7 linked regions of the Homo sapiens genome follow. The protein of the gene in region 7 purifies or fractionates together with the protein of the main gene of each other region. This does not show direct contact. Each region holds a gene or a part of one and is shown on either strand. Other genes may lie near its edges. The genes, in order: PABPC1L, CASC3, PUM2, SREK1, ZC3H11A, PDCD11 and PAIP2B.

What was found.
Region 1: the proteins of PAIP2B (region 7) and PABPC1L purify together in Homo sapiens (affinity purification with mass spectrometry; one large-scale study listed by BioGRID and IntAct). This does not show direct contact.
Region 2: the proteins of PAIP2B (region 7) and CASC3 purify together in Homo sapiens (co-immunoprecipitation; 2 studies listed by BioGRID and IntAct, with this or other methods). This does not show direct contact.
Region 3: the proteins of PAIP2B (region 7) and PUM2 purify together in Homo sapiens (affinity purification with mass spectrometry; one large-scale study listed by BioGRID and IntAct). This does not show direct contact.
Region 4: the proteins of PAIP2B (region 7) and SREK1 purify together in Homo sapiens (affinity purification with mass spectrometry; one large-scale study listed by BioGRID and IntAct). This does not show direct contact.
Region 5: the proteins of PAIP2B (region 7) and ZC3H11A purify together in Homo sapiens (affinity purification with mass spectrometry; one large-scale study listed by BioGRID and IntAct). This does not show direct contact.
Region 6: the proteins of PAIP2B (region 7) and PDCD11 purify together in Homo sapiens (affinity purification with mass spectrometry; one large-scale study listed by BioGRID and IntAct). This does not show direct contact.

Annotation. Positions count from the first base shown.
Region 1 is NC_000020.11:44,913,060-44,916,559, forward strand, and holds part of PABPC1L (polyadenylate-binding protein 1-like), read left to right. Parts: intron 1-3,500. UniProt on the Homo sapiens protein: Poly(A)-binding protein involved in oocyte maturation and early embryo development. It is required for cytosolic mRNA polyadenylation and translational activation of maternally stored mRNA in oocytes.
Region 2 is NC_000017.11:40,143,537-40,147,036, forward strand, and holds part of CASC3 (protein CASC3), read left to right. Parts: intron 1-3,500. UniProt on the Homo sapiens protein: Required for pre-mRNA splicing as component of the spliceosome. Core component of the splicing-dependent multiprotein exon junction complex (EJC) deposited at splice junctions on mRNAs.
Region 3 is NC_000002.12:20,340,845-20,344,344, forward strand, and holds part of PUM2 (pumilio homolog 2), read right to left. Parts: intron 1-3,500. UniProt on the Homo sapiens protein: Sequence-specific RNA-binding protein that acts as a post-transcriptional repressor by binding the 3'-UTR of mRNA targets.
Region 4 is NC_000005.10:66,150,800-66,154,299, forward strand, and holds part of SREK1 (splicing regulatory glutamine/lysine-rich protein 1), read left to right. Parts: intron 1-2,663; coding exon 2,664-2,797; exon of another isoform or gene 2,798-3,500. UniProt on the Homo sapiens protein: Participates in the regulation of alternative splicing by modulating the activity of other splice facors. Inhibits the splicing activity of SFRS1, SFRS2 and SFRS6. Augments the splicing activity of SFRS3.
Region 5 is NC_000001.11:203,826,623-203,830,122, reverse strand, and holds part of ZC3H11A (zinc finger CCCH domain-containing protein 11A), read right to left. Parts: intron 1,825-3,500; coding exon 1,701-1,824; intron 673-1,700; coding exon 469-672; intron 344-468; coding exon 227-343; intron 1-226. UniProt on the Homo sapiens protein: Through its association with TREX complex components, may participate in the export and post-transcriptional coordination of selected mRNA transcripts, including those required to maintain the metabolic processes in embryonic cells.
Region 6 is NC_000010.11:103,441,626-103,444,209, forward strand, and holds part of PDCD11 (protein RRP5 homolog), read left to right. Parts: intron 1-200; coding exon 201-350; intron 351-584; coding exon of another isoform or gene 585-587; coding exon 588-835; intron 836-1,539; coding exon 1,540-1,708; intron 1,709-2,289; coding exon 2,290-2,443; intron 2,444-2,584. UniProt on the Homo sapiens protein: Essential for the generation of mature 18S rRNA, specifically necessary for cleavages at sites A0, 1 and 2 of the 47S precursor. Directly interacts with U3 snoRNA. Involved in the biogenesis of rRNA.
Region 7 is NC_000002.12:71,220,604-71,224,103, reverse strand, and holds part of PAIP2B (polyadenylate-binding protein-interacting protein 2B), read left to right. Parts: intron 1-3,500. UniProt on the Homo sapiens protein: Inhibits translation of capped and polyadenylated mRNAs by displacing PABPC1 from the poly(A) tail.

The sequences.
Region 1 (3,500 bases), on a different chromosome or scaffold from region 7:
GTGTAACCACCTTCAAATTTAGTGGCCGTCAACAACAATCATTTATTTAGCTAATAATTCCACAGTTGGCAATGGGCAAAGTTCAGCTGGGCAGTTCTTCTGGTCTTGGCTGGGTTCCCTCCTATGCCCACTGAAAGCTGAGTGGGAGCTCTCGCTGGGTATATGAGGGAGCGACTGGCTGTCAGCTGGAACATCTTGGCTTTCCTCCCTATGGCCTTTTGTCCTCCAGTAGGCTAGTCCAGGCTATTCTCATGGTATTCTCATGGCAATGGCAGGGGCTCAGAAGACAAGAGTGGAAGCACACCAGGCCTCTTGAGAACTAAATGCAGAACTGGAACCATCACTTCCACTACGTTTTTTTTTTTTAATTGAGATGCAGTCTTACTCTGTTGCCTAGGCTGGAGTACAGTGGCATGATCTCAGCTTACTGCAACTTCCTGGGTTCAAGCCTCCTGAGTTCAAACGATTCTCCTGCCTCAGCCTCCCGAGTAGCTGGAATTACAGGTGCGAGCCACCATGCCTGGATAATTTTTGTATGTTTAGTGGAGACAGGGTGGGTTTCACTGTGTTGGCCAGGCTGGTCTCGAACTCCTGACCTCCCAAAATGCTGGGATTACAGCCATGAGCCACCGCACCTGGCCTCTTTCACTACATTCTATTGACCAAAGCAAGTCACAAGACCAGCCCACATTCAGAGTGAGAGGGGAGTAGAAATTATAGGATGAAGGGTGTGGCTACAGGAAGGCCATTAATTGGGGCCATCAAGGCAATTAAGTTATTGAATCTTGTTTTTAAGATTGTCTTACATTAGATGTAAGTTCCATCAGTGATCTTGTTCTTAGTCATTATTGTATCCCAATACTTAGAATAAGATGTGAAACATATTAGGTGCTCAATAAATATATGTTGAGCCAGTGGAGGTATGTCATTTGAGAAGGATTCTGATTATTTCTCTGACTTTTTATATGAGGATGTTGAGGATCAGCGGCCATATAGCAGGTCAGTATGTCTGGAACAGAGGGCTTAAACCTGGGTGTTCTGTCTCTAGATTTTATAAGGATAGTTGATCAGTTACCCCGTAGCCTTTGGAGTGTCTGCTATTCTAGGGAGGATGGGGACAGTTTTTGTAGCCTATGTGTCAGAACTTTTTTTTTTTTTTTTTTTTGAGACGGAGTCTCACTCTGTTGCCCAGGCTGGAGTGCAGTGGCGCGATCTCAGCTCACTGCAACCTCCTCCTCCCAGGTTCACGCCATTCTCCTGCCTCAGCCTCCTGAGTAGCTGGGACTACAGGTGCCCGCCACCACGCCCAGCTAATTTTTTTTGTATTTTTAGTAGAGACGGGGTTTCACCGTGTTAGCCAGGATGGTCTCGATCTCCTGACCTTGTGATCCGCCCGCCTCAGTCTCCCAAAGTGCTGGGATTACAGGCGTGAGCCACTGCACCTGGCATGTCAGAACTTTTATCAAGTGCTACTGTGTGCCAAGCATAATCCTTAAGTTCTCAACGAGGGCTCTCAAATTCCCAGTCAATAAGAGGCTATCCCTGTGGCTCAGAGGAGCAGGTAGACTTGAGGAGATGTAGTAATGCACTAAGGGTTATCTGTGACAGAGAGACGGGGCTGTTTCCTGTCTTTGAGGATCAAAGGAAGAAAGACTCTTAACTGTGTATTAAGTTCTTCACAATAATAATGGCAGATTTATCATGTACTTTCTGTGTGTTAGGTTTTCTGCATACATGTATACTCCTTAAAAGGGTACCTGGCATACTGTTAAGCTTCTAAGTGATAACTGTAACAATCAAAGAATTACTTCTGTTGGCTGACCTTGGACAAGTCATTTATTCTCATTTTCCCTCTGGGGCTCAGAGGTTAAGAAATGACTGAAAGGATTCTCTTATGACTGGCATAGATAACAAGGGAAGTATGTAATGCCCTTAGCAGGTTCTTGACCCACAGTGGGGACCCAGTCAACGTGGTTAAATCCAAGCTGAGGCTTGAGTTGAAAGTGGAAGGCCCCTGTTTCAGGATGAGAGGTGGAGGGGTATGTGCAAGGCATGGGTTTGGAAGCAAGATCTGTTGTGCAACACCCACTGGGGAGCCTCAAATGCCAAGTTGATATAGTTCTGTGGATAGAAGCTACTAGAGATTGAAGGGATGTGGTCAGAATTACATTTTAGAAAGAGCATCACAGTGGTAGTGTGCAAGCTAGGCTGGGAGGCAGTGCTTGTCATCCAGGCAGAAAATGCCACTAGCTGAGCTGAGCCTGTAGCCACAGGGATGAGTGGAGCCACAGTCACCTTGAAGTGGGGGGTTAGTGGTCTTTCTGCGAGTTCAACAAGAGGGATGGGGGCTATGTGAACTAGAAGGTCTTTCCTTGTTCTCAAGTTCTGTCCTGCTGGCCTGAGTCAGGAGGGTTACAGAATGGGAATAGGATATTGTGCATCTTTAAAAAAATTGAGGCGGGGTGCAGTGGCTCATGCTCCTAATCCCAGCACTTTGGGAGGCCCAGGTGGGTGGATCACCTGAGGTCAGGAGTCCAGGACCAGCCTAGCCAACATGGTGAAACTCCATCTCTACTAAAAATACAAAAAACTAGCCAGGCATGGTGGCATGCACCTGTAATCTCAGCTACTCGGGAGTCTGAGGCAGGAGAATCGCTTGAACCTGGGAGGCGGGGGTTGCAGGGAGCCAAGATTGTGCCATTGCACTCCAGCCTGGGCAACAAGAGTGAAACTCTATCTCAAAAAAAAAAAAAAAAAAAATTGAAATGAGTCTGTTGTTGCAGTAATTCATGTATTGGCAAAGTTTAAACAATGTGGAAGGGAAGAAAGTGAAAAACAAGACTCCATTTCTTTCAGCCCTAGTCCCCAAAAGTAATATGAATACATTTTATGTGTCTTTTTCAAAATTTCCAATGTGTAGATGCCTACTTTAGCCTGAATGGATTTTTTTTTTCACTTAACAAGACTGTCAGGCCATGTAACCTACCACATTCTCTTCAACTGTGCACATACAGTAGACTGGTGTACAATTGAGGCTCCCCCTTGATGAATACCCCGGTTGTTTCTAGTTTGCTGATAGAAACAAGGATGCAGATATGGGGGTTTGAATCTAACCCTTTTGCCCATTGCCTTAGGAAGACAATTAAAAGCCAGTATGCAGTATAGATGAAACCTGTGTTCATTTCGTTCTCCCTCTTAAATCTGTTTTTTCTTTTCTGTTTTTATTTTTTTGACACAGAGTCTCACTCTGTCACCCAGGATGGAGTTCAGTGGTGCAATATCAGCTCACCGCAACCTCCGCCTCCTCGGTTCAAGCAATTCCCCTGCCTCAGCCTCCTGAGTAGCTGGGATTACAGGCACCCACCACCACATCTGGCTAATTTTTTGTATTTTTAATAGAGACAGGGTTGCACCATGTTGTCCAGGCTGGTCTCGAACTCCTGACCTCAAGTGATATGCCCACCTCGGCCTCCCAAAGTGCTGGGATTACAGGCATGAGC
Region 2 (3,500 bases), on a different chromosome or scaffold from region 7:
AAAAATAACTATTGGCTGGGCACAGTGGCTCATGCCTGTAATCCCAGCACTTCGGGAGGCTGAGGTGGGTGGATAACAAGGTCAAGAGATTGAGACCATCCTGGCCAACATGGTGAAATCTCGTCTCTACTAAAAATACAAAAATTAGCTGGGCGTGCTTGCACGCCCCTGTAGTCCCAGCTACTCAGGAGGCTGAGGCAGGAGAATCGCTTGAATCCGGGAGGCAGAGGTTGCAGTGAGCCGAAATCAAGCCACTGCACTCCAGCCTGGTGACAGGGCAAGACTCCATCTCAAAAAAAAAGTATATATATATATTAATAAAAGAACGTAATTGAATTGTTTGTAACAAAGGATAAATGCTTGAGGCGATCCATACCCCATTTACCCTTACATGATTATTACACATTGTATATCTATATAAAAATATCTCATGGGCCGGGCTTGGTGGCTCACACCTGTAATCCCAGCACTTTGGGAGGCCGAGGCGGGTGAATCACCTGCGGTCAGGAGTTCGAGACTAGCCTGGCCAACATGGCGAAACCCATTTTCAGTCTCTACTGAAAATAAGAAAAATTAAGTAGGCGTGGTGGCAGGTGCCTGTAATCCCAGCGACTCAGGAGGCTGAGGCAGGAGAATCACTTGAACCCAGGAGGTGGAGGTTGCAGTGAGCCAAGATTGTGCCATTGCACTTCATCCTGGGCAACAAGAGGGAAACTCTGTCTCAAAAAACAAAAACAAAAACAAAACTCATGTACTACATAAATATATACCTACTGTGTACTCAACAAAAATTAAAAACTTTCTTTTTCTTTTTTTTTTTTTGCTTGAGATGGAGTCTTGCTCTGTAACCCAGGCAAGAGTGCAGTGGCATGATCTTAGCTCGCTGCAACCTCCACCTCCCGGGTTCAAGCGATTCTCCTGTCTCAGCTTCCCAAGTAGCTGGGATTACAGGTGCACACCACCACACCCAGCTAATTTTTGTATTTGTAGTAGAGACGGGGTTTTACCATGTTGGCCAGGCTGGTCATGAACTCGTGAACTCAGGTGATCCGTCCGCCTCAGCTTCCCAAAGTACCGGGATTACAGGTGGATTACGGGTGTGAGCCACTGTGCCCAGCCCTCTTTTTTTTTTTTTTTTTTTTTTAAAAAAGAGGCAGGGTCTCACTCTGTTGCCCAGTCACCCAGGCTGGAGTGCAGTTGTGGGGTCACAGCTCACTGCAACCTCAAACTGCTGGGTTCAACCAGTCCTCCTGCCTTGACCTCCTGAAGTGCTGAGATTACAAGCATGAGCCACCATACCCAGCCAAAAAAAAAAAAAAATTAAGTTTTTTTTTTTTTTATTGAGATGGAGTATTGCTCTGTTACCCAGGCTGGAGTGCAATGGCTCGATCTCAGCTCACTGCAACCTCTGCCTCCTGGGTTCAAGCGATTCTCCTGCCTCAGCCTCCCGAGTAGCTGGGATTATAGGCGCATGCCACCACGCCCGCCTAATTTTTGTGTTTTTAGTAGAGATGGGGTTTCACCATGTTGGTCAAGCTGGTCTCGAACTCCTGACCTCAGGTGACCCACCCACCTCGGCCTCCCAAGGTGCTGGGATTACAGGCATGAGCCACCGTGCCCCCCATTTTTTTTGTTTTGTTTTGTTTTGTTTTTTAAGACGGAGTCTCATTCCGTTGCCAGGCTGGAGTGCGGTGGTGCAATCTCGGCTCACTGCAGCCTCCGCCCCGCCTGGTTCAAGTGATTTCTCCTGCCTCAGCCTCCCGAGTAGCTGGGACTACAGGTGTGCACCACCACGCTCAGCTAATTTTTGTATTTTTAGTAGAGACGGGGTTCCACCATGTTGGCCAGGATGGTCTCCATCTCTTGACGTCGTGATCCACCCACCTCGGCCTCCCAAAGTGCTGGGATTACAGGCGTGAGCTACTGCGCCTGGCCCAAAATTTTTTTAAAAAGAGAAAAAGCCCAGATAGAGAAGATAGAGAGCGTTTGGGAACTTGGGAGTAATTAGGTGTGACTGGAGCATTGTTGGGACAGGATAGGTATTAGAAATAAAGACAAATTGGTGAGCAGGGGCCACTAATTGGTGAGGTGGGAGGATTGCTTGAGCCTGGGAAGTGAAGGTTGCAGTGAATCAAGATTGTATCACTGTACTCCAGCCTGGGCAACAGAGCAAGACCCTGTGTCAAAAAAAAAAAGTGATGCGATTGGATTTATTTATTCATTTTTTAAAAATTTTTATTTACTGTTTTTTGTTTGTTTGTTTTTTTAATTTTTAGTAGAGATGGGGTTTCACCATGTTGGCAAGGCTGGTCTCGAACTCCTGACCTCAAGTGATCTGCCGGTCTTGGTTTTTCAAAGTGCTGGGATTACAAGCATGAGCCACTATGCTTTGTCTGATTTAAATTTTAAAGATGTGTTTTTCAGATCCAGAGAACACTTGCATCAGAAAATCCAATTAGCCATTCTCTACTGAAACAGACTCTTGGGAGGGGCATTGGAGACTCAGACATTTATGTATTAAAGAATATCCCAGGTTGATGCTATGTACTGTAAAATTTGAGGATTCTTTTATAGCAGTTATTTTGTCCACAGTGAAGAGAAACAAGATCAGAGACAGAAAAGCTAGTTAAGAAAGCTATTGTAGGAATCTAGTTAAGTAGTGAGTGTGGCATGGAATAGAGTGGTGATAGTGAAAATAGAAGTGGACAGAATTCAGAGTTAGAAGTGGTTTTGGGATGGGGAATATTTGCTGCAGTACAGATGCTTTTTGATTTATGGTGTAGTTACATCCCATCCTGGTAAACCCATCATAAGTTCAGAAGTTCAAGATAACTTCTTGGCTAACTTGGAGCAGCAACTCTCTGTTGCTATCCAGCATCTCGAGAAGTACGATTTCTTTTTTTTTTTTTTTTTCTTTTTTTAAGACAGAGTCTCACTCTGTCTCACTCTGTCTGCAGTGGCGTGATCTCAGCTCACTGCAACCTCTGCCTCCCGGGTTCAAGCGATTCTCGTGCCTCAGCCTCCCAAGTAGCTGGGATTACAGGCGCACGCCACCATGCCTGGCTGATTTTTTTTGTATTTTTAGTAGAGACGGGGTTTCATCATGTTGGACAGGCTGGTCTTGAACTCTTGACCTGGTGATCCGCCTGCCTCGGCCTCCCAAAGTGCTGGGATTACAGGCATGAGCCACAGTGCCTGGCCTCTTTTTTATTTTTTTAAAAATATTTTTAATAGAGATGAGGTCACTCTGTGTTGCCCAGGCTGATCTTGAACTGGACTCAAGGGATCCTCCCACCTTGGCCTCCCAAAGTGCTGGGATTACATGTGTGGTGAGCCACTGCACCCAGCTGAGAAGTACAGTTTCTACTGAATGTTTATGGCTTTCATACCACCATAAAGTCAAAATTATAAGTTGAACCATCATACATCAGGGACCGTCTGTAGTCACTAGAGAATGGAAACGTTGGAGAAACTGACAGGCAATATGGAGTGTTCATTGA
Region 3 (3,500 bases), about 51 Mb from region 7:
AACTAGCTAAATGAACTCGATCTCATTTGTCCATTTGCAAATGGAAACAACAATGCCTCCCTCATAGGGCTGTTGCAAAGATTAAGTGAGGTAATAAATGAAATTGAAATGCAAGTGCTTTCTAGAGTATTAATGACACATCAAACTGAACTTTTTGTTTATTTGTTTAAAAATCAATATAAAATTCTTTGGACTGGGCACAGTGGCTCATGCCTATAATCCCAACACTTTGGTTGGCCAAGGCAGGAGGATTACTTGAGTCCAGGAGTTCAAGACCAGCGTAGGCAACATAGCAGGGGCCACAGCTCTTACCTGCGCTCTGCACAGCCCCCCTCTCCCTGCCCCGCAAAAAAAGAAAATATTTTGACCCAGAAGTTTCTCTTTTGGAAATTTACCTTAAACAAACAGCACCAACACAAATGAATTAACTATATAAAGATATTTACTGCAGCACCACTTATATGGTGGTACAAAATTAAAAAAATAAGCCAAACTCAACAACAGAAAAAAGTTAAAACAATGAGCCAGTACAAAAATTACAAGTAATTAAAGTTACATGTAAAATGTCCATGATATTAAGTAAAAATACAAAGTTGCCTAATGTGTATCATATGATCCAATTTTTGTTCAAAAAAGGAGGGGGGCAATGTATGACTACATATGTTTGTGGGAAGTACGAAAAAATAAACATCTCACTCAACTTTGGTAAAGAAGGTACTGTTGGCTTTATCTTTGTATTTCTTCATATTGTAAGACTTACTGAGGTTAGCAAAATAAATTTCTTAATGTCCTATATAAATATAGCTTAACTGCATTACAGTTTGGAAACTATCAAAGTACAAAAGTTATTGTGTTACTTTTTGTTCCTATTAGTACTAGGCTGAAAGTCCAACAAATGAAGACTTGTCTCACATGGCTATCTTAGTAATTTTCAATTGTTACATGCTATCAATTAGAATTAATACCTCACCAAGGAAAAACAACTTAAGAAATGTTAACTAGAGGCCTAGCATGGTTGCTCACGCCTGTAATCCCAGCACTTTGGGAGGCTGAGACAGGTGGATCACTTGCGGTCATGAGTTCGAGACCAGGGTGGCCAACATGGTGAAAGGCCGTCTCTACTAAAATATAAAAATTAGCCAGGTGTGGTGGCAGGCGCCTGTGATCCCAGCTACTAGGGAGGCTGAGGCAGGAGAATCGCTTAAACCCAGGAGGTGGTGGTTGCATGGAGCGGAGATTGCGCCACTACACTCCAGCCTGGGCAACAGAGTGAGACTCTGTCTCAAAAAAAAAAAAAAAAGAAAGAAAAAGAAATGTTAACTAAATTGTAACAGAGAACTAAAGGAAGAAATCTGAATGCATGGTCTGAGACAACTGGAGAAAAATAACAATTTTAAGAAGCAGACTTTAATGCAGTATATTTGGAATTTTCCTAAGTGTGCTCCTTATTCACCAACTCAGTGTTCTCAGAAATAAGTGATCCCTTGTCCAATACATTTCAGGTATGCTGCTCAGTAGCACCCACTTGCTCCTTTGCAAGCTCTGAGTACATGTTCAATCTTTCCTTCCTTCTGTTACTGGCTCCAAGAAATTCTACAATTAAAACTGTTTAACCTTAACCCAGTATTACCATAACTTTTCTGTAAATGTTAACACAAATACATTTTATGTAGTGTTTCTAGTCATTTCCAAGACAACTTAAAGAAAAATGAATGTGAGGTATGAAATATATTCAATTTTCTCATAAGACTGGGTAGAATAGAGATTTAATTTTTGTCTAGGAAAACCCTAACTTACGGTTAAAAGCTTTAAAATATATTTAGCTTATTATGACTTATGAATAGTCTAAGAAATATATATGAATTGTATAAATCTTTGAAGTAAAAGGAATCATTTAGGTGATTAGCATGAATTGCGGTTTTTAAAGTTCCTCAAGTAATCAAGAACAAGCTTTGAATTGGTTAACTTTAAAGTGAGATGAAATGACCAAGCCAATTTCCTAAAGATACTTAAGTTTTAAAAAGGCAAGTTATTACATCAAAAACACCACCAAACATCTAGGTAGAAATGTATGGAGAGAAACCAAATCTGTGTTAGTTTCAAGGATTAAGTATTAAATCATATATATATTTATAGACAGGGTCTTACTCTGTCACCCAGGCTAGAGTGCGGTGGTGCCTTCACAGCCTCCAAACCTGGGCTCAAGCAATCCTCCTGCCTCAACCTCTAGGGTTACAGTAGTGCCACACTATGCCCAGCTAAATTATATATTTTTAAAAGAGTCTGTGTTTAAAAAAAAATTGAGTATAATTTAAATAAACTTACTTTATTCACTTAAGCAAATGTTTGGAAGACGGCAGACTATCTTAAAGGAAATATACAATAAAACAAACAAAAAAATTAGCTGGGTGTACTGGTACATGCCTGTGGTCCCAGCTACTCAAGAGGCTGAGGTGGAAGGATCACTAGAGCGAGGGAGGTGAAGGCTGCAGTGAGTCATGTTCACACCACTCCACTCCAGCCTGGGTGACACCACTGCACTCCAGCCTGGATGACAGAGACCCTGCCTCAAATTAAAAAAAAGTTTCTAAATAAAAATAACTAAGTAATTTATTAAATAAAATAGCAAATAAACTAGTAAGTTTAAAGCTAACCAGTTGTGCTAGTAATTGTACAAACAGTAGGTATGTACAATTCTCATTAGCCAGAGAAAGAAATCATACCAAACCCTTGGATGCAACCTTATTCCTAACACTAAGCTTTAAAAGAAATTTCTGTTGGGCATGGTGGCTTGGACCTATAATCCCAGCACTTTAGGAGGCCAAGACAGGAGGATTGCTTTAGTCCAGGAATTCGAGACCACATGGGGCAACAAATTCGAGACTAGCCAAGGCAACATAGTGAGACCTTGTCTCTACAAATAATAACAAAATAACTAGTTGGGTATGATGTTGTGCGCCTGTAATGCCAGCTCCTCAGGAGGCTGAAGTCAGAGAACTGCTTGAGACTGGGCAGTTGAGGCTGCAGTGAGCAGTGACTGCACCACTGCACTCCAGCCCCAGCAACACGATGAGACACCCGCCCTCATCCCAGTATCAGAGAAAAAAAAAGCAATTTCTTAGATGGAGCATTATTGAGGCAACAGAGTTGTAATAGAAAATATCTTCAACATTACCATTAACAGATACAAGGTTTCATAGTATCATTTTACTTTATTTTATTTTACTTTATTTTATTTTTTGAGACAGGGCCTCACTCTGTTGCCCATGCTGCAGTGCAGTGGCTCGATCTTGGCTCACTGCAATCTCTACCTCTTGGGATCAAGAGATCCTCGCGCCTCAGCCTCCCAGGTAGCTGGGACTACAGACGCGAGCCACCATGCCCAGCTAATTTTTGCATTTCTTATTGAGATGGGGTTTCACCACGTTGCCCAGGCTGGTCTCAAATGCCTGAGCTCAAGCAGTCCACCTGCCACGGCCTCCCAAAGCGTTAGGCGCCCA
Region 4 (3,500 bases), on a different chromosome or scaffold from region 7:
GTAGAGTTTTGGAAATAACTTCAGATCTTTGTAGTTTGACAATTTTTTTTTTCTTTTTTGAGACACAGTCTCACTCTCTTGCCCAGGCTGGAGTGCAGTGGTGTGATCTCGGCTCACTGCAAACTCTGCCTCCCGGGTTCAAGCAATTCTTGTGCCTCAGCCTCCCAAGTAGCTGGGATTACAGGTGTGTGGCACCACACCCAGCTAATTTTTGTATTTTTAGTAGAGATGGGGTTTCATCATGTTGGCTAGACTGGTCTCAAACTCCTGACATCAGGTGATCTGCCTGCCTCTGCCTCCCATAGTGCTAGGATTACAGGCATGAGCCACCCTGCCTGGCTGACAAAATATTTTTTAGACTAAATTCGTGGGGGTGGGAACTTTACTCATTGTGGTTATTCACTCTGGGATGAAGTTGATGAGTCCCAGCCATCTTTTGAATGTTGCCAGTCGTTGTGGTGGAGGAAAAGAGTCAAACAGTGGTTCTCAGAGCTTCTTCAGAATAGTGACACATGTCAGTTCTGCTCATATTTAACTGACCAAAGCAGGTTACATGGCCACACCTAACTTAAAGGAACAGAAAAATGGAATTTTATTGTGTACCTAGAAAGAGCTTTGGAAGTAGTTGGTGGGCAGTGCTTAGGATGGTCACACTAGTGACTCCTAGGTTTCGGACTTGGGTAGTATGATATCTTTTACTGAAATATGGAATGCAGGGGACAGAGGGCAAGACTGGTAAGGAAGGAGGTTGATGAATGTATTTTCAACTTACTTAGTGACCATCAAGGTGTAATATTCCAGCAGGCACTTGTACCTGGGAGTCTAGAGCTCACAAGAGGCCTGAATTGGTGATTTGGTCATGTAAAGGTGGTGAGTTAAGTCTGGATGTGCATACAGTTAACCTCAGTGTCAGTACACAAGTTGCTTTGACTTAGGTGTTGGGTTGGGTAAGGAGGGATTTTTGTTGAGGGCTGATGTGAATCCTGAATTGGATGCCCTTAGGCAGAAGTGAGTTGGATGCTAAGAGGTACATCCTTTTTTTTTTTTTTTTTTTTTTTTTTTTTGAGAAGGAGTCTCGCTCTGTTGCCTAGGCTGGAGTGCAGTGGCGCAATCTCGGCTCACTGCAAGCTCCGCCTCCCGGGTTCACGCCACTCTCCTGCCTCAGCCTCCTGAGTAGCTGGGACTACAGGCGCCCGCCACCACGCCTGGAGAATTTTTTGTATTTTTAGTAGAGACGGGGTTTCACCGTGTTAGCCAGGATAGTCTCGATCTCCTGACCTCGTGATCCGCCCGCCTTCCGCCTTGGCCTCCCAGAGTGCTGGGATTACAGGCGTGAGCCACTGCGCCCGGCGGTACATCTTTTATTTTCAACTTTAATTAGCCTTACTAATTGTGTTAATAATGTAAATAGTTTTAAGTTCTAAATGCAGATTCATTTTATTATCACATTGTTTGGTTAATAGCATAAATATATATAAATTTAACCGTTATTAATGTGGTTATTCTACGTTGTTTAAAGATGGTTTTGTTCCTGGACGTGAAGAATTACAAAGAAATCTGGATTTTTGGATTTTAAAAACGGCTAATGTTTGTGGAATTGCTAATTTAATAGTATGTCAGAATGGTTTAAAGATTCTTGATTAGTTGAATGATTACAGTTGCATGAAGTTTGGAATTAGATGATTAGACATTAGATGTTAACTTTGCGATTTACTAGTTCTGGAATTGTAGTCAGTTTTCTTTCCTGTTTTGTAAACAAAAGTAAATGACTATTAAGTCATATATTTTTCAAGTGATCTCTCTTTTTTTAGTGTGAAAAATCTTAAATGTTTCAAATAGATTTTAATATAAAATCTATGTTACAGATTACGTATGTACTTAGTTCGGTCTTTTTTTTCCTGCTAAAGACAATTACAGATTTTAATGAAAAGTAATTATGGATAGGCTGACAAAATGATTATCCATGAGGATAGTATATTTTCGAATCTAACAGGATGTATTCATTTTAGGAAAAGTTCCTTTCATTTGTGCTTTGTCTGGTTCATTTTTAGTATCGGCCTGCCTGGATTAAACTGAATCAAGTAGGACCAGTTAGAGTCTTTGTTGCCTATAAAATATGTAAGATTTTGTTTGTAAAATCTTTTGTCTGGAAAATCATCACTGTCCAGCTCTGGTGTATGCAAAATACCTCAATTTAAATTCCATACTACCTGACTCTTTCTAAGACTGTTGTGAAGTTTTTTAGTGATGTAAATGCTTGGGAAACACATTTAGGAAGAGTTGGAATGATGATAAAATTTGAAATCTTGAGGTTTGGAGCTTTTATAAAGGGATTTTTGCTTACATATGATACACTTTTTGAGTTAATTTTTGGGTTAAATTAGCTTTTTTTACATTCACTCGGATTAAGGATTGATTAATTTGAGTTCCAAGTTTTACAAGTAAGGCAGTAGGCCTGCCTGGATTGCCTTCTGTTGTGGTAGACAAATCACCATTAAATGACTAAGTTTCACTGTTTTATGTGTTAATGATCCTTAATAACAAAAAGTTTTAAAGTCTTAATTTCGTAAGATTATGTAAAGGTTAAGAAAGAAATTTTAAGTGAAAATGATAAAACCAAGCAAATGTTTATTAGTTCAATTGTTTTTCTTTTTATCTTGCAGCAACGCACCTCTTGCTTTTTCCTCCAAAGTATGTTATGTTAAGTTTCGTGATCCATCAAGTGTTGGCGTGGCCCAGCATCTAACTAACACGGTTTTTATTGACAGAGCTCTGATAGTTGTTCCTTGTGCAGAAGGTTGGTATCTCGCTTTTTTTCCTCTTATTTGAATTTCTGTCCTGTCTGTTATTGCCTTTAGCTTTCCTAGAGATTGGCAAGTAGACAGTACTCTTGGTGTGTGTGTGAAAGTAAGAATGAAATTTGGAGGAGGTAAACCTTTTTACCTAATAGTAATATTAAAATGGTTAATTTATGACATGTACATTTGAGGTTTTACAATTTAACATTCATTGGCTTCTGGTTTGCTTTGGCTTTCTGTAGTCAATTTGCAGATTGCAAAGAAAGCTTTCTGAAATTAAAAAATAATTGATATGGGAAATTATTTTAAATGCATAAACAAGCATTTACCTTGTGTGTTCAATATTAATACTATTACAAATGAAAATAGTGTACACATTTTGGCAAATTGGGGTTAAGTGATATTTATAAGAAAATATTTGTAATTTATACTTTCAAGTACACTCTTAAGGTAATTTACCTTAATTGTTACTATGAGATCATTATTTTATATTCAATGTAATTGTTTGCTTTGCAACTGGAATTTAATGTTTTCTTTTACTGGCCCCAAAAAGGGGCAGGAGGAGTGTTGGAAAAAAAGGAAAGCAATTTTCCAAAGCCTCCATGAAGGAAGTAGTTGTTGAAGATAGGAACAAAGGCCTTAAAGTATCCATTAAATTTTATGACCTAAACTGCTTTAAGAACTAATTATTACTAATATTTT
Region 5 (3,500 bases), on a different chromosome or scaffold from region 7:
CTGAAAATTCAAATAGAAATTTTATGAGGAACGGGAGCCTTTTCATCTTTGTATTTTATCTGTACATAGCAGGCATTTATTTTTGAATAAATGATCAACAGAAACTAAGTATAGGTAAGTATGCGTGTAGCATGGGAAAAAGAAGAGGGAGGTCAATGATTGTGAACTAAATTTCAAAGGTAGTTTCAACAGTGCTATAAGAGGCACCAATCTAGCCTCTTCTTACCTTGCTTTATATTGACTGCAGGTTTCCGGACAGAAGTCACTCGTAATCCATTGTGAACTTCAGGAGTTGGTTGCAGGGTAGGTGTTTTGGTTTCATCACCTTCCTCAGAAAACTGATCTATATATCAACATTTAAGGCAAATTCACAATTAAAAATACGCCTATAGCTTTAATCCTGATTCTGCCCAATTCACTATGAGACCCTATTTATTTGCCTTAAAGAAGGAGCCAGACAGAACTTACCATCATCATCTTCATCATCATCTGCAGCATTAATTACAACTGGTGGATGCGTGGGGCTAGGAACATTTTCGGAACTTTCTACTTTCATAACGCTCCGCAGCTGAGGGGAAGGATTGGACTGGACAGACAATTTGTTCTGCTGAACTGAAAGTTGGCTAGCCTTCACTTCCTCTTCTGGTGACTCAGGCACAGTGGGCAACACAGCTAAACGCACAAAATCAGTCATAAATTAAAAACAGAAGATACAACCCCAACTTACCAAAAATTCCTGACCACCTATGAAAACTATAGTGTATTTGTCTTATGAGCATTTATACTAAATTTCCTCATTTAAGTTCTAAAGTCCCAGGGAGGGAAAAGATGTGCTTTTACCTAATTAACTCTCCACTAACTCTCCACTGTACATAAACACAAAGTGGGCACTCAAAACAGAATCAACAGAAGACTAGAAGAAGCATAGTACCTGTTCACAAATTCTAGACCTTTAATTTTAATACTGCAATTCTAGGCTTTTTGCTCAGCAAAGAAGTAGCTTCTAAGACCCAAGCATATGACACTTACTTGAACCAAACCAGAAAGGAATAAGTCTACTTTTTTCCCTTAAATTGAGGTAAAAAGATGTAGCCATCAAATTTTAATCACGTAGCAACTGTGGCTTTTAAATGGCCAATTCCACTTTTAAATTACTTTAAAATGAACTTTGGGAATAACCACTAGCTTTTTAGTTTTATTTTAGATTATAGTCTAGAGTAGGGTTGGCAAATATTTTCTGTAAAGAGCCAGTTAATAATTTAGGCTTTGTGGGCCATATGGTTTCTGTCTCAACTACTCAATTCTATAGCACTAGCACAAAACTGATAATAGAAAATATGTAAATGAATGGGCAAGGCTATATTCCAATAAAACTTATTTTACAAAACAGGCAGAGGACCAGTTTTGCCAACCTTTGACCTAGAAAATCAAATTTATTTTGAAAACGTTTATGGGTCTGATAAGAATATGAGAAATGAAGTAAGTATAATAACTTAAATGGCATGCCAAGATATATAATGGTTCTAAGGCCAAGGATAAATCATTTAACCTTAATAAGATTCAGTTCACTTATCTGTAAAGTGGAAATAATTCTGCTGTTTCACAAGACTGAAAGGAGTCAATGTCTGAAAAGTACTGTTGTACAGTGTGCATAATAGGTGTTCATTTGATATTCTTTTAAAATTAAAAACTGATCTCACTTTTGCTCGGAGGTAGGAAAAGGCCATCAACATATCGTCCTCTATTGTGATGGAAAGCGCAGTTTAATTTTTGACATCCTGTTGGCTGATTTTCCCAATAACAAGGAATTTCACTGCGTTTTTTCTGTAAGAGGGAAAAACACATTGCTTTCAAATAAAACAGTGATACGTATATTCATGTGGCAGTTTGTTTTCTAGACAAAGTTCATACAGGGTTCAAAAATCCGAGGCATGTGAGATGAGATGATTTTTAGAAGGAAGAGAGATTGCTGAAAATAACATAACTTAGGCATGATGGAGAGCTGAATGGAGCAGGAGAGTAGTTTATGTTATTCTTTCCCTTTTTACCCTCATCCTGGAACCCCTAAAATGTCTACACTTAATTTAGAGAAGCAGGATGATACAGTAGTTTAAGTTTATGAAATCAAAGATAACGGTCTGAATCTCTATTATGTTACTTATTGGCCAGGTGGCCTTGGATAATTCATGCCTCTAAGCCTCACTTTCCTTAGCTATAAAACGGGAATAAATGGTTTCTTATGAAGAGTACATAAAATAATGTATATAAAGCACTAAGCACATAGGTCAAACTCAATAAACTGCAGTTATTACTTGAAGCTGAGAGTTCAAGGGTTTGAGAAAATTCTTCCCATTCATGAATTCTCAAAGTAAGGCACCTATAACAACACACTAAGGATGTTAGGTATCCTTCCCAAGTCACCTTACTTTTTTTTTTTTTTTGAGACAGAGTCTTGCTCTGTCACCCAGGCTGGAGTGCAGTGGCGCGATCTCCGCTCACTGCAAGCTCCGCCTCCCGGGTTCACGCCATTCTCCTGCCTCAGCCTCCAGAGTAGCTGGGACTACAGGTGCCTGCCACCACACTCGGCTAATTTTTTTTGTATTTTTAGTAGATAAGAGGTTTTACCATGTTAGCCAGGATGGTCTTGATCTCCTGACCTCGTGATCCGCCCGCCTCAGCCTCCCAAAGTGCTGGGATTACAGGTGTGAGCCACCGCACCCGGCCAGTCACCTTACTTTTATAAAGGAAAATTGGGAGAAAAAAAAAAAAAAAGAATACCTGTGCATCTAGAATAGAATAAACTGCTGAATCATAGGATGTATGTCCTAGAAAAATATATACATTAGTTCTCCAACAGCTGTGTATAAGCAATGTTCACAGCAATATTATTTTCAATAGCTCTATAATTTTGCAAACCCATGTGTACATCAATACTAGAATGGATAAAGAAACTGTAAAGTATTCGTACAACAGAATATCATCTAGTAATGAGAAGGAATAAACCATTGCTATACTCAATGCCACAGATGTGAAATGAAAGAAGCCAGACACAAGAGTGCATACTATACCATTCCATTTATGAAAAGATGAAAACAGTCAAAACTTCTCCATGGTAGAGTAGTTGGGATGCTGATCAGCTTTGGGGATGTGGTTAGTAACAAGGGGATGAAGGGGAAGATAGATTACTGCTAATACTCTATTTCTTGAACTAGGTGCTGATCAAGTAAGTATAATCACTCTATGAAAATTCTTCAAGTTGTAAGATTACGATTTTGCACTTTTCTAGATACATTTTAATAGTTCAAAAAAGGGGGAAAAAAGATATGAGAAGTACTCCCAAAAACTAACTAACCTCCGATGAACTGCATTATGTCGAATCTCTAATCATCATAAACAGCCTATGGTTTAAAATTCCAGGAAAAAACACCAGCATTGAAATTTAAGAATATGGAGAAGAGAGACAGAGAAACAATAACCATTACAAAAAGATGCTTAAATGT
Region 6 (2,584 bases), on a different chromosome or scaffold from region 7:
TATTTACAAAGAAAACTTTTATGTCACTGCTATAAAGTTTCCCCAGTGGGCTGGGGCCTGGCATGGCCTAGGAGGAGAGGAGAGGAGAGGAGGGGTCTCTGGGCTTGGTAGGAGTCCATGCTCCTCCAGGTGGGCTGGCACGGGGGAACAGGGAGCAGCCTGAGCCAGGTGCTTTCTTTAGCGCCTCTGTGTTCCTCCAGGAGAAGCAAACCAAGCCAGCAGAAGCGCCCCGGCTGCAGCTGTCTTCAGGCTTCGCTTGGAATGTGGGACTAGACTCTCTGACCCCGGCCTTGCCACCTCTAGCAGAGAGCTCAGACAGCGAGGAGGATGAGAAGCCACACCAAGCCACGGTGCTGTATTTTGCAGGGCATGTCCTTTTTGCAGGGACCCCTTGGTGTCAGTCTCTTGTGCTCTGTTCCTAGACTGGGTGTCTTCCTGGGTGAGTGGGGGAGGGGGCAGCGGCCAGTCCCAGGCCAGGGGGTATATATAGAGCCCTGGGCTGCCCAGCCAACTCGTGACTTCCACCACAGACCTCCCCTAGGCCTTGAGGAGCAGATGACTCACGGTGTTTCTGCTTTCCATAGCAGATAAAGAAAAGCAAGAAAGAAAGGGAGTTGGAGAAGCAGAAGGCAGAGAAGGAACTGTCCCGCATTGAGGAGGCGCTGATGGATCCTGGGCGGCAGCCAGAGTCCGCGGATGATTTTGACCGACTGGTGCTGAGCTCCCCCAACAGCTCCATTCTGTGGCTGCAGTACATGGCTTTCCACCTGCAGGCCACGGAGATCGAGAAGGCCCGTGCCGTGGCTGAGAGGGCCCTTAAGACCATCTCCTTCAGGTCTCAGCTTTGCCCCAGGGAGCACAGTGTCTTCGCACGTTCTGGGCTGGGAAGTTTCTCAACCTGTGGGGTAGCTCCTCCTAGGCAGGCCGGCAGCATTTTGGGTGGCTGCCACCAGGGGCCCATGGGTCCTCAGGCTTTCTGCCATAGCTGCGGCCATCTGTGAAATAGATCTACTCATTTATATTTTATAGTCTTCTTCCCTGAAACTGCTAAGGGTAACCTTCACAAGAGTCCATACACTTATATGAGGGAACCAGTTTGAGCAGAAACACAGTAAGAAAAGAACTCACTACATACCTGGGCGAAATCCCTGTGGTGGTTTTCCAAACAGAGGGAGTTTTTGAGGCCTAATGAAGAGGGAAGGCAGTCCTTTGCTTCATCCTCTTAGCTTGAAGAGAGAATCAGACCCAGGACTCTGCGTCCAGCCCAAACCTCAGGCCCGTTTGGGATCTGGTGGGCATCCTTTCTAGGAATGGAGGCAGAATCCAGGAGAGCCTCAGACTCAGCCATTGGGGTTGGGGCAGGGGTTTCTAATGCTGCAGGAGCTGTGGGGACACAGCCTCTTAGGGTCTACATTTGGGGTGGGATCTGAGGACACAGATAGAGGCTGGGAGGGGGAGGTGGTTCCTGAGTCTGTCTGGATGGGGCGGGAGGCTCACTGGTTTCATGTGGCGCTCATGTGCTGACTGCTCTCCCTCCAGAGAGGAGCAGGAGAAGCTGAACGTGTGGGTGGCTCTGCTGAACCTGGAGAACATGTACGGCTCTCAGGAGTCCCTGACCAAGGTCTTTGAGCGAGCCGTGCAGTACAACGAGCCTCTCAAAGTCTTTCTCCACCTGGCTGACATCTACGCCAAGTCAGAGAAATTCCAGGTAGGAGGTTGGGCCACAGACGAACTCCTGGGAGTTCCAGGGCCACAATCTCAGAGAAGAGCCCCTGGGGTGCTGGGTCCAGTCCTGCTGTGAGCTTGCCACCCAACATCGGGGCCCCAACTTCCCTATCTTCCAAGTAAAAGAAGTCATTTCCCTCACCTCTTCTTCAGGCCTGTGGGGTCAAGGTGAGGGAAGGAGTGGCTTTGGAAGTGAAGGGGCAGTGGACCCCTGGTGTGTCTGCCTTGGGCTGCTGGCAGGGCATCACAGACAGAAGGGGACGTCCCGGCCCAGCATCCGCTCTGGCGTCTCTCCTACTCCCCCTTGTCATTCTCATGTTCTAGGCTAGGACCGCCCTCCCATGGGTGCGGATCAGCAGGGAATCCCCTCCGTCGTGTTGTGCCTGTTCACGGTGCCCTTCTGTGAGCCTCCCTCCCGCTCCTCTCAGGTCTCTAGCATTAGGCCCTGAGAGTGATTTGGTGTCTGGGAGCCCAGGTCTAGCTTCTTGTGAGTGTTGCTGCTTGTCTGTCTTGTCCCCTCTGTAGTATCACACTCTCCTCAGCGTGCCTCGTCTTTTCCCACAGGAAGCTGGTGAACTCTACAACCGGATGCTGAAGCGTTTCCGGCAGGAGAAAGCTGTGTGGATCAAATACGGCGCCTTCCTTCTGCGGAGGAGCCAGGCTGCAGCCAGTCACCGCGTGCTGCAGCGAGCCCTGGAGTGCCTGCCTAGCAAGGAGCGTGAGTGCTCATTCCCAGCTCCTGAGCCCATGAGCACTCCAGGATCGGGGAGTAGGAACTGGCTGTGGCATTGCTTCTTCTAAGTCAGGAGAGCCTTGTGAGGGCTTTCCTCTTGCTGCCTGTTGATTCTCTGCCCCTCAG
Region 7 (3,500 bases):
TGTATGAGGGCTGAGACAAGGCTGAGGGTCACCTTGGGACTTGGGCAAGGAGTGACATATTTTTCACTACTATGTGTATATCCATAAGTCACCTTGAAAGCTCCACAAGTATTTGGGGATTACAAAGACATTTTAGCAAGTAAGCAAATTTGCAAATATGGGATCCACAAATAATGAAGATGAACTGTATTTGTAAGTGACTGCTAGGGTCTGTTTCATGGTAACCCCTTTCCCCAACAATGTGGACTATTTCTTTAGCTTATTTGATAGTTTGTACATTTATTCATAAATTTATTCAGTTATCATATATTCATTCATTCAGTTTGTTCATTTATCATATATTAAGCACTTACCATAAGTCAGACTCGGCTGAGCGTGGTGGTTCATGCCTGTAATCCCAGCACTTTGGGAGGCTGAGGCAGGTGGATCACGAGGTCAGGAGTTCAATACCAACCTGTCCAGGATGGTGGAACCCTGTCTCTACTAAAAATACAAAAAAATTAGCCAGGCATGGTGGCAGGAGCCTGTAGTCCCAGCTATTCAGGAGGCTGAGGCAGAGAATTTATTGAACCCAAGAGGTGGAGGTTGCAGTGAGCCGAATCGTGCCACTGCACTCCAGCCTGGGTGACAGAGTGAGACTCCATTTCAAAAAAAAAAAAAAAGTCTGTGTTTTTGTTTGTTTGTTTGTTTTTGAGATGGAGTTTCGCTCTTGTCACCCAGGCTGGAGTGCAATGGCACGATTTCAGCTCACTGCAACCTCTGCATCCTGGGTCAAGCAATCCTCCTGCCTCAGACTCCAAGTAGCTGGGATTATAGGCTCACACCACCACACCCAACGAATTTTTGTATTTTTAGTAGAAACAGGGTTTCACCATGTTGGCCAGGCTGGTCTCGATATTCTGACCTCAGGGAATCCACCCATCTTGGCCTCCCCGAGTGCTGGGATTACAGGCGTGAGCCTCTGCATCCAGCCTCAAACTCTGCTTTAATCTGTGGTGAACAAGCTGGAGATTAAGGTCCTGCCCTGTGGATTTTATATTTGCCTAAGAAAGACAGATAAGAGCTAAGTCAGGAGCTCTGGGGAAAGGCCCAGGTTGGAATTATAGATTCACTTGACCAAGGTAAACCTGGTGTGCCTGCTCCTACTTCACATCCCCAGACATACTTCCAGAACATTTCCTTTTGTATTTTTGTGTACAAACTTCCTTTTGAGCCTCTCTCCATTGTCACATGTCAACCTCTACTTGTCTTTTGTTGATTTTGAGGCCACTTGCCCATGTAAGTGGCAGGATATTATAGAAGAATCATGCTGACCTGGGTCTTTGAATTCTGGTTCTGCTACCTACCAACTGAGTTCCTTTGGTCAAGCTCTTGGACTTCTGAGCCTGTTTCCTAATTCCAAAAGTGGTATATGATGTGTTAGTCCCTGGTGGGTTGCAAGAAAGAGGCACACACATATCAGCTTTGGTGATGAGGGCTGAATGTAAACTTGGATGGAAAGTCATCTAAGCAGCCATATTGTCTCTTGGCCCTAGTACTTTCAAAACTTCACAGAACATTAATTTAGCAGTATTTAGTATTTGAGCTCTGAAGACCTGCCCTCTTTTGCTTTGTTCACTCAACATTTGTATTTTCCAAGAGAGAATATCTGATTGGATTAGTCTGTCACCTTCTAAAAACAGAAGGCCCCTACTAGAGAGAATTTTGAGCTGTGCCATCATGTCCTTGGTGATTGATCTCCCTGAAGTTCAGCCTATATGCCGTCCTCAGCTGAAGCACTGAGCCCTGGTCCAGTCACTTGTGGCCACAGAAGTAAGGTTGGTTTTATGCATTACCAGTCACACAGATATGCTACAGATATGCTTTTTTGTGTATGCCACAGTCACACAATAGTTGTATTGTGTCTGGAGTTGGTTCCTGCCTGTGGGTTCACGGTCTCACTGACTTCAAGAATGGAGCCCCAGACCTTCGTGGTGAGTGTTACAGCTCTTAAAGATGGTACGGACCCAAAGAGTGAGCGGTAGCAAGGTATATTGTGAAGAGTGAAAGAACAAAGCTTCCACAGCCTGGAAGGGGACCCCAGCAGGTTGCTGCTGTGGGCTCAGGTGGCCAGCTTTTATTCCCTTATTTGTCCCCTCCCATGTTCCGTTTCTGGGCTATCAAGAGTGCCCTTTTTTCAATCCTCCCTGCGATTGGCTACTTTTAGGGTCCTGCTGATTGGTGCATTTTACAGAGCGCTGATTGGCGCATTTTGCAGAGCGCTGACTGGTGCATTTTACAATCCTCTTGTAAGAGGAAAGTTCCCCAAGTCCCCACTCGACCCAGGAAATCCAGCTGTCCTCACCTCTCAGTATGACTATAGCATATTTTAAAAGAACCCTTTGGAGAGTTTCTTTAGAAGACGATTGAGAGTATAACAGTTCTAGAGTTTCATGGCCTTTTGTCCAATTCAAATACTTACCTAATATAATCATAGATAATTATTAATAAAGAATCTAACAAGGTAATTGACACATGTCAAATATTCAATACATCTCCCTTTTGGTATTGCATTTAGTATTATAGTGTGGTTATTTGTTCATATGGCTGTTTTTCATACTAGACCGTGAGCTCTGTGAGGGCAGGGTCTACAGTTTCAACTGTAGAAATTCTGAACTCTTCCTGAGAGAATGGGAGGATAGAAAGGCTTCCCAGAGAAGGTATTATTTAAGCTGATATCTTTAAGGGTGAGTAGGAATGCTTTCCAGGTGAATAAAACCTTCAGACATCATTCCAAACCGAGACTAGCAGGTGCAAAGGCACAGAGATATAGAGATGGTGAAGTTTACTTATGTGCTGTTTGTATTAAAAATACAAAGAACAAATAAAAACAAAAATTAAAAATCATCTAGAGGAAAAACTATGAATGGGCTTGGCCAGAGGGCATGTCACAATTGAGTTAGCTATGACCATAGATACTCAGTAATGGATGGAAGTTTTAGGGAAAGAGTATAACATTCTCAGGTTGTTGGCAGAGTGTCTAGAACAATTTAGAAATACAGGTAATTGAATTCTGGGAATGATTACACTGTAGTGAAATCATTTACTTCTTCTCTGCCTGTGAAGCATACATGTGTTGCACACTGTTCAAGGTCCTGAAAATGAGACTTCTTCTCAAGGAGCTCATGAGCAATCAAGGGAGACAGATGGGTGAGCAGCTGATTATCATGTGACAAGTGAGGTAATAGAGGTATAACAAAAATGCTATCTAAACAAGAAGAAAGGAATAATTAGTAATATATGGAGTGCTGGGGAAAGATTTCTCAAATGAAGCTGGCCGGGTGTGATGATGGCTCACGCCTGTAATACCAGCACTTTGGGAGGCAGAGGTGGGAGAATCCAGGAGTTCAAGACCAGCCTGGTCAACAGAGCAAGACCCTGTCTCTATATTTGAAAAAATAAACAAATATTTTTTAAAAACGAAGTGATATTTGAGCACTCTGGAGCACTATACAAATATA